3 separate regions of the Homo sapiens genome follow, and regions 1 and 3 are each linked to region 2. Evidence: fine-mapped expression QTL. A gene starts in region 2. Each other region holds a variant in brackets. All regions are shown on one strand. Distances are between the middles of the regions. Region 1 overlaps SKAP1 (src kinase associated phosphoprotein 1). Region 2 holds the start of HOXB2 (homeobox B2). Region 3 overlaps SKAP1 (src kinase associated phosphoprotein 1).

Region 1 (2,854 bases), 150 kb after region 2:
TCTCTAGCAAGATAATCTGGAAAAGCCACTACTAGATAAATGTAAATTATATATTTACACACACATATATATATATTTTACAACTTCCTAGTCTCTTTGTTGTTTCCTTGCTTCCTTTAATTCTTTCCTCAACGTGTATTGCTCTAGAAACAAAAGGGTGGAGAGAAATAAAAGTAGCACTGTCTGTGATTCTTGGTAAACTTTAGGGGCTTAGCTCTTATTTTTATGGCTGGCTTGGCATTCACTGGTATTTGCCATGGTTGTGGACTTGCTGTAAATGGAAGCATCTGACTCTATCACAGCTATTATAATGTGCTTTTTGCTATTTTTTGTTGTCTAGAGTGAATGACCACAGGAAAAGACAATTGTGTCAAGAATCCTGGGTGTTCTCCAAGTGCTCATGTTTTTCAGTACAAATCACTTTAGCTATTCTGTTTTTAGACTTAGAAACAAAAAATAGCTATCTTTTTTTAGACTTAGAAACAAAAAATAAAATCCTATCTATATTTACATACTCTTTTCTTTTTGTTTGAAAGTGTTACCAATGAAGGCTAATATTTTCCATGTAACACAAAATAAAAACGGATAGCAATTTCTGTGATTCCAAGGAAATGAAGCCCTATTGTGGTATTTGTTGTCCTAAGCTGTGATTTTCATTGCTTTTCTTAAAAACTAAACAGCTTTCACATTCCAAGTCTAAGTTTTCATTGAGCCCTTTGGAGAGTGGCTAGTATGAAAGCCAGGCAAAGGCACTTCCTGCTTTATTACGATGGTCACTGCAGGATTAGCACCAGATGTGAGACACCTGGAATGAAGCAGTTGTGATCTGTGCTCAGACACTTGATGGCATTCTAACGCATTGGGAGAAACAGTAGAGCATTTTTTAAATGTTTGATTCAGTGGAGGCCATCTGACTGCAAGAATACGTTGAGAGTGGGGGAGGGGTAAAGAAAAAAAAAATATATATATATATATTTTTTTTGAGACCGAGTCTCTGTTGCCCAGGCTAGAGTGCAGTGGTGCGATCTTGGTTCATTGCAACCTCCACCTCCCAGGTTCTGGCGATTCTTGTGCCTCAGCCTCCCAAGTAGCTGGGATTACAGGCATGAGCCACCACACCTGGCTAAAGGTTTTTGTATTTTTGGTAGAGATGGGGTTTTACCATGTTGGCCAGGCTGGTCTCTCCTGACCTCAGGTGATCCACTCACCTTGGCCTCCCAAAGTGCTAGGATTACAGGAGTGAGCTACCACGCCCAGCCAAAAATAGAATATTTTTATTATTGAGATATGGCTTAATTTCTCTCTCAATGGCCCTTCTTGGATAAGTAGTCATTTATGCTCCCTGTTGGAAGTGAAGGACAGAGCCAATGGAAGCAAACTTGGAGTATTGTTTCCTTCTGTGAAACTTAGTAATGCTGAAGGAGTTCCAAAAAGAGACCAGTAGATTTATATCATATTGAGATGGAAAGAAATAAAGAAATACATTTTGTGTAACAGGGTTATGGCACAAAACTCAGGACATTTAAACTACAGGCTGAAAGAATATCTTGAACGTGTCTCATTTGTGGGTGGCTAACCTATAGCTCTGTGTGAAACATGATATACTAGTAAAATCTCATAAAAATAATTCTGACTTTCTTTGGGAATTTCATGTTTTCTTTTCAGCTTAACGTGGATTTAGCTTTAAAACAAGATTTAGCTTAAGAATGTATAATTCTGATATTTTTGTATTATAGGAAGAAAGACAAGGAGTTAGCCTGATAAAAC[T/G]CTTGGGAGCAAGAGTTTTGAAGTAGTATACTGTAAATATAATTACCATTAATTATATAGAGAGTTTTACTTTTCTTAAATGTTAATTATTGAGCTTAAAAATCCCCAAAACAAAACACATTCAAATGAAGTATGCTTATCAAAAGAACTAATGTATAATGTGCTATTAATACATTTATGTTATTCACAAGTTTCAAGATTTACTCATAACATCTTTTTCTGTTTTTTAATTTTGCTACTTGTACTGGAGCTTCAGTGCCAATGCAGAAAAAAAAAAAAAAAAAAAGGAAGAGGTAGTTGAATGATCCGTCTAAGTTTAAATAGCTCTGAAAAGGCTCAAAAGTCATAGCAATAATTTGACCACATCTGGAAGGTTAATAACTCATTTCTTCCTTTTTCAGTCTTATCCCTCCCTCCCATCCTTAAAGGAAGAAAAAACAAACCCACAACAACTTCAACATTATTACTCAACTCATCAGTTATATCAGTCAAATTTTTGCTTAGTTCTCTGTTATTCAGTGGATGAATGTTGAGATTTCACAACTGAGTTAAAGAGTTTTGTGAATCTACTTCTCTAGGAATGAGAGGTTGTATTTATTGCTGTTTTAATCTGGAATGCCCTACAGGTGAGAAAGATAGAATATTACTTACTGTTGATCTCTTGGCTTAACTTTTAAGACCTGGTAAGGAAGATCATCTTATGTGTTTTTTATGGCAAGTCTCTGTCCTTTCAAAATAGCTTTGAAATGTATAACTCTCCTTATAATTTTATCATAATGATTATTTTGTTTATTCTTTCATATGTGAGGCTATCTGGAAGTAGAACAATTTTTCTTAAATAACATTTTTTAATGTAATAATGACCATAGTCCTTGGTGGTTCAGAATAAACCATACCTTTTATATTTTCATTTTATATCTTTAAGATTTTAGATTGAAGTTCAGAAAAATGTTTTTGATGTTGTTGTTGTTGTTGTTAGTTAGTTAGTTTTTTGTTTTTTTGAGACAGAGTCTCATTCTGTCACCCAGACTGGAGTGCAGTGGCATGATCTTGGCTCACTGCAACCTCCGCAAATTCAAGCAATTCT
Region 2 (2,500 bases):
CTCCTCAAAATAAAATAAATTTTAAAAACATTTTCCCCCAGCAGCCAGAAATGGAATATCATCTCAGTGGTCATTATTTCCACCCCTACCATCTTCAGGGAATTCTTCCTTGTCAGGGATTCTTTTTTTTTTTTTTTTCTTTTTTCTTTTTTAACTAGCACAATGGCAAAAATGGGAGGGAAAGTCTCTTTGTCCTAGGGGAAAATCTCCCCACCACACTCATGCACACACATAACGCTGATCTGAACTTTGAGAGTGCTCTAAGTTAAACCAATGGCTACCTCAGTTCTTGTTCATGTCCCTGGATATGGATACAGATACAAGCTTGAGGCTTGAGTGGGTACATGCACATCTTAGACTCTGCCTGTTTTTGGGGGATGTCACAGAGAAGCATGGAAGCCTGAAAGTGAGGAAAGCAGGGGTACATAAGGGGCAGAGGCAGTGCTGCAAACACTGGGCAGAGAAGAGAACCCAGACCATACAGCGATGGAGGCCAGAGGCCCAAAAATGCCCCTTATGCTCCATCTCACTCCTATGTGTCTGCCTGGGAGTTCCTGTCCATTTCCCAAGATTTAACTGTTGTTTTTGGAGGGTAACAGGGATAGTGGTGTGATGATTGTAAATCTCTTTCTTATTTTCACCTTAATACTGACCTTTTTCAAAGAGTGGAAGCCTCTTTCGACTCCCTCTTCCTCCAACGCGGAGATCCTCACTCATCTTTTCCTGGGGAAGGGGAGAAGGGAAGGGGATGCTGCTGGCCACGTAAAGAAGGCCTTAATTTACTCTATTAAAATACTTGGAAAAGAGGAAGGTTTCTCCCTTAGAGTCTCTTCTTTTCCAGGCTTCTGAAACCTTCTAACCTTCGAAGGGGATGAGGAAAAGGTTCCTCTAGCTTTTCTGGAGAAACGGAGGCATTGGGGAGAGAGCATGTGAGGCACTGGTGTAGGAATGGGGGCTCATGGTGTCCTGGTCGTGGTCCTCTGGTGTTTTTGAATCAATTAAACCAAATAATGCTCTCTGTTTTCCACCAGGCCCAGACGAGCGATTGGCGGAGGCCGGTCCCGTGACCACGAATTCCCTGTAATTTCGCTGGAGTCCTGGGTTTAATAGAGAGAGTCCCCATACGCTTGTATTTATCAGCAATATACAATTATAAAGGCCCAAAATTAAAAAAAAGAGAGACCGAAATCTCCCCCTCCCAAAATCGCTCCATTACATAAATCGGGGGGGGTGCAGGAGGGGGGTCCCTTCCGATCCTCCCTCCTGACGCCCCCCCCAGCAGCCCCCTCCCCCACCATTGAAAGCCATGAATTTTGAATTTGAGAGGGAGATTGGGTTTATAAACAGCCAGCCGTCGCTCGCCGAGTGTCTGACTTCCTTCCCCGCTGTCTTGGAGACATTTCAAACTTCATCAATCAAGGAGTCGACATTAATTCCTCCTCCTCCTCCTTTCGAGCAAACCTTCCCCAGCCTCCAGCCCGGCGCCTCCACCCTTCAGAGACCCAGGAGCCAAAAGCGAGCCGAAGATGGGCCTGCTCTGCCGCCGCCACCGCCGCCGCCACTCCCCGCTGCCCCCCCGGCCCCCGAGTTCCCTTGGATGAAAGAGAAGAAATCCGCCAAGAAACCCAGCCAATCCGCCACGTCTCCTTCTCCGGCCGCCTCCGCCGTTCCGGCCTCCGGGGTCGGATCGCCTGCAGGTCGGTAAGCGTGGTGGGGGTGGGGTGAGGGGCAGCTAGAAGAGGGGGAGAAAAAGCAGTGGAAGGAGGTTTAAAAAAAATGGTGGCGAGCCTGTTGGGGTTCCTTACCCCCTCCATTCCTGGGATGGGGAAGTAGAATATCCCACTGGGGTTCAGGCCTGGCCGCTAACAGCGTCTTTTTTTTTTTCTGTCTCTCTCTCTCTTTCTCTCCCTATGGCTGATTTTGGAAGCTGGTTGGGGAAACGCCTTTTTTTCTGCTAGAAGAAAATGATTTGATTGAGGTTTTCACCCGTATCTGTGTAGGGGAATGAGTATGTTGTTGCTGGGATAGACCCTAGAAGCAGAAAAGATTCGGTCCTTTCTGCCCCAACTCTAGGAGAAGAGGAAGAATTCAGAGCTAGGGAGGAAGAGGGGTGAAGAACAATCTTTCTGACCCTCGCTCCGGTTGAGTTGGAAAGTTCCGAATTGAGGGGTCCACTGGGAGGGCTTGGGAGGGGGATCTGAGGTTCCGGCGCCGAAGGGAGCCGCTCTCCGCCCCCTGCGTGGCCCGTGGGCGGCTCTGAATGCTTTGCCCTGACCCGGGCCGGGGCTGTAGACTAGAGAGGGAGAGAAGAAAACCCAAAAGCAGTAAAGCGAGCGGCTTTGGGGTGGGGGCGGGGGTGGGGTGGCGAGGAAGGGGAGAGGTGATACTGGTTTTGGAGGATGGGGTAGTCCGAACTGAGGTTGGGCTGAGTACACGGCCCGCTATGACGCCGAGCCTGTTTTCCCTGCAGATGGCCTGGGACTGCCGGAGGCTGGTGGCG
Region 3 (2,854 bases), 220 kb after region 2:
CTCTCCAAAATAAGAAAGTTGAGAAAGCCCTTTGCCCTTCCTGTCTTCACCTTTGCTTTTGTTCTGTCACCTTCCTCCTGCCTGGAATATAGACTTGCCGCCTATAGATACAGCAGCCACTTGCTCAGAGATATTATGTCTTACCCATGGCAACAATCAATAAGTAGCAAAGCTAGAAGAACATAAATATCCAGCCCACTCTTTCCGTTATACCTTGAGTGTAACTGTCAATGAACTTCCCTTTATTGTAGATTCTAGTAATTTTCCCACCCCCAAATGAACCACATATCAAATGAAATGGGTCTAAATATATATGCATACACAAATATGCAGAATACAATTCAGCAAACATTTCAGTCTCTTCCTGTGCAAGCTCTGTGCTAAGAAATAAAGAGGAGAGCAAGACTATCCCTGCCCTCTGGTGGCTTATAAATAGATTTATGTGCAAAAGTAATGAAGGTAGAATATGCTAATTTTATAATGTAGCAAGAGAACAAAGTAATGTAAAATCCATCTTGAATGGGAAATTCTACAAAAACTTTAAGTTGGTAGTAGGCTTTGAAGTACAGTCAGCAGTTAAAAATAAGGAAAGATAATGCCAGGCAGATAATGAACTATAAGCAAAGATATGAAAGGAGACATTCAAAGGGGTTTCTTGGGTAGAATTCAGTAGTAGGCTATGGCTAGACCATAGGCTGCACAGGTAGGAACAGGAGAAGATAAAACTGGAAAAATAATTTGGGTATGGATTGTGAAGATTATGTTCAACCTTTATTTTGAAGGTGATAGGCAGCTGTGAAGTATTTTTTAAAAAATCACAGATTGACTTAGTCAGGTTCATATTTTGGGAGGAAAGGGTGATTAGAGAGAAGATTAGGAGATGCTTGCCATGGTGTTGGTGAGCAGTGCTGAGGACCTTTCAATGTCAGTGGACCTTTCAATGGAGAGATGGACTGGAGAGACCATTTAACCTTTAAAAATAATGAAACAGGCCGAGCGCGGTGGCTCACGCCTGTAATCCCAGCACTTTGGGAGGCCGAGGCTGGCGGATCACAAGGTCAGGAGATCGAGACGATCCTGGCTAACACGGTGAAACCCCATCTCTACTAAAAATACAAAAAAATTAGCCGGGCGTGGCGGCAGGCGCCTGTAGTCCCAGCTACTTGGGAGGCTGAGGCAGGAGGATGGTGTGAACCCGGAAGACGGAGCTTGCAGTGAGCCAAGATTGCGCCACTGCACTCCAGCCTGGGTGACAGAGCGAGACTCTATCTTAATAATAATAATAATAATAATAATAATAATAATAAT[AATAATAATAATG/G]AGACAGAAGGATGAGCTGGATAGAAAAGATCATTGTGGAATATTGTTCCTGAAAATCTTTTAAAATAGGGTGGCTAACTATCTCTCTATCTTGAACAAGTTACATATTTATATCTAGAGAGGTAGGGAATTGGCCCAAATGATTTCTTGAGGGGTCATTCTTTGCTTTTGGGTAATTAGAAAACATATACAAATGGGTAGTTCCTTCTATACTCCAGTGAGATTCTTGGTTAGCTGAGTGTTGCTTGTTTCTCTCCATTCTGTTGGAGACTGCTAGCCATGTTACTGATTAGTATCACATCCTCTAAAAAATGTTGGAGAAATTCTGGGACCTCACATGCTAAGGGTGCTCATTATCTGGATGCCTGTCATTGGCTTGGCTGGCCTAGGCCTGGAAGCATAGATTTCCACCAGAAACAGAAAGAATTTGACGTGTAATGTATTCAATAATCACAGCCTTCTGCTGCTCCTTGCCCAGCATAACAGTTAAATGAGAGTTTTGAAGTATCTAGGAATTTTATTCATTATTGTTCTTTTAATTACCACTATTACTGATAGTAAGAAATGCTTTTTCTTTAAAAAAAAAAATTGGTGGAGGTAGAGATGGGATCTCACTGTGCTGCCCAGGCTGGTCTCAAACTCCTAGGCTCAAGCAATCCTTCTGCCTCGGCTCCCAAAGCATTGGAATTACAGGTGTGAGCCACCACACCCAGCCAAGAAATCCTCTCTCTTTTGATAAAAACTTGTATGATTTTTTTCTCTCTGATTGCGTTTTCTTTGCCTTAGTAAGATTTTTAAGAGAAACTTACTTTCTTTTTTATATTGCAGTAACCATTAGTATTTTTAGGAGTTATAAAGTTCAGGCCAAATAATTTACTTTTATTTAACATTTATAAGTGTGCTGGGCACTATGAGTTTCTACTATGTTATAGGTTTTTATAGCAACTTATTTCCAGGAGAGTAAAGAAAAAATTTACTTTTGAAAGACATCCTTGTCTAGAAGTATCAGTTTAATCTTAAGATAATATTACTGATTTATTATACCTCTCAGAATAGACTTAGGGGCTTTTTAAGGTGTACAGAGAACCAATAAGATCACTTAATTAATACTTAAGGCTGAGTTTTTCCTGATGACATGTTCTTGAATTGTTACTCTGTTATTTGTGGTTCATGAGAGACTGTTTCTTGGTAATAATAGATATCATCAATAGGAAACTCATCCTTTTTTCCTTTTAGCTTCATTTTTATTCCTGGGTTATCTTGCATGCCTTTGGATCTCTTGCCTCATGAAATATCCTGGTAATTTTGTTTTCAGGGTTTTTTTAACCTTTGGATTACTAAAAGACTATGAGATTATTTGTCCATTTAATAGATGGTTATCATATTGGTTATCACATAAGGGATATTTTAGATACTTGGTCATAAGCTTTCTTATCAAGCCTTCAAAATTTTTATTAAAAGAGAGGAATTCATTTATTTGTTTGTTTGTTCGTTTGTTTGTTTTTTGAGACACGGTCTCACTCTGTCACCCAGG

The links.
Region 1: its variant is fine-mapped to the expression of HOXB2 in whole blood (INTERVAL, PIP above 0.99).
Region 3: its variant is fine-mapped to the expression of HOXB2 in monocytes after LPS (Fairfax 2014, PIP 0.95).

The regions. Positions count from the first base shown.
Region 1 is chr17:48,390,984-48,393,837 of GRCh38, reverse strand. The region is part of intron 2 of SKAP1 (src kinase associated phosphoprotein 1); the gene reads left to right. Among named protein-coding and RNA genes, the nearest start is that of SKAP1, 38 kb to the left of the region's middle. The variant T/G (reference allele first, on the strand shown) is at 1,768.
Region 2 is chr17:48,543,718-48,546,217 of GRCh38, reverse strand. It overlaps HOXB2 (homeobox B2), which reads left to right and starts at 1,109. Exons shown (of 2, transcript NM_002145.4): 1 at 1,109-1,697; 2 at 2,471-2,500. The coding sequence starts at 1,307. HOXB-AS1 (HOXB cluster antisense RNA 1) reads right to left here and starts at 1,867. Exons shown (of 7, transcript NR_102279.1): 1 at 1,806-1,867; 2 at 861-1,097; 3 at 654-723. RefSeq lists an enhancer at 2,241-2,500.
Region 3 is chr17:48,319,814-48,322,667 of GRCh38, reverse strand. All of the region lies in intron 4 of SKAP1 (src kinase associated phosphoprotein 1), which reads left to right. Among named protein-coding and RNA genes, the nearest start is that of SKAP1-AS2, 27 kb to the right of the region's middle. The variant AATAATAATAATG/G (reference allele first, on the strand shown) is at 1,309.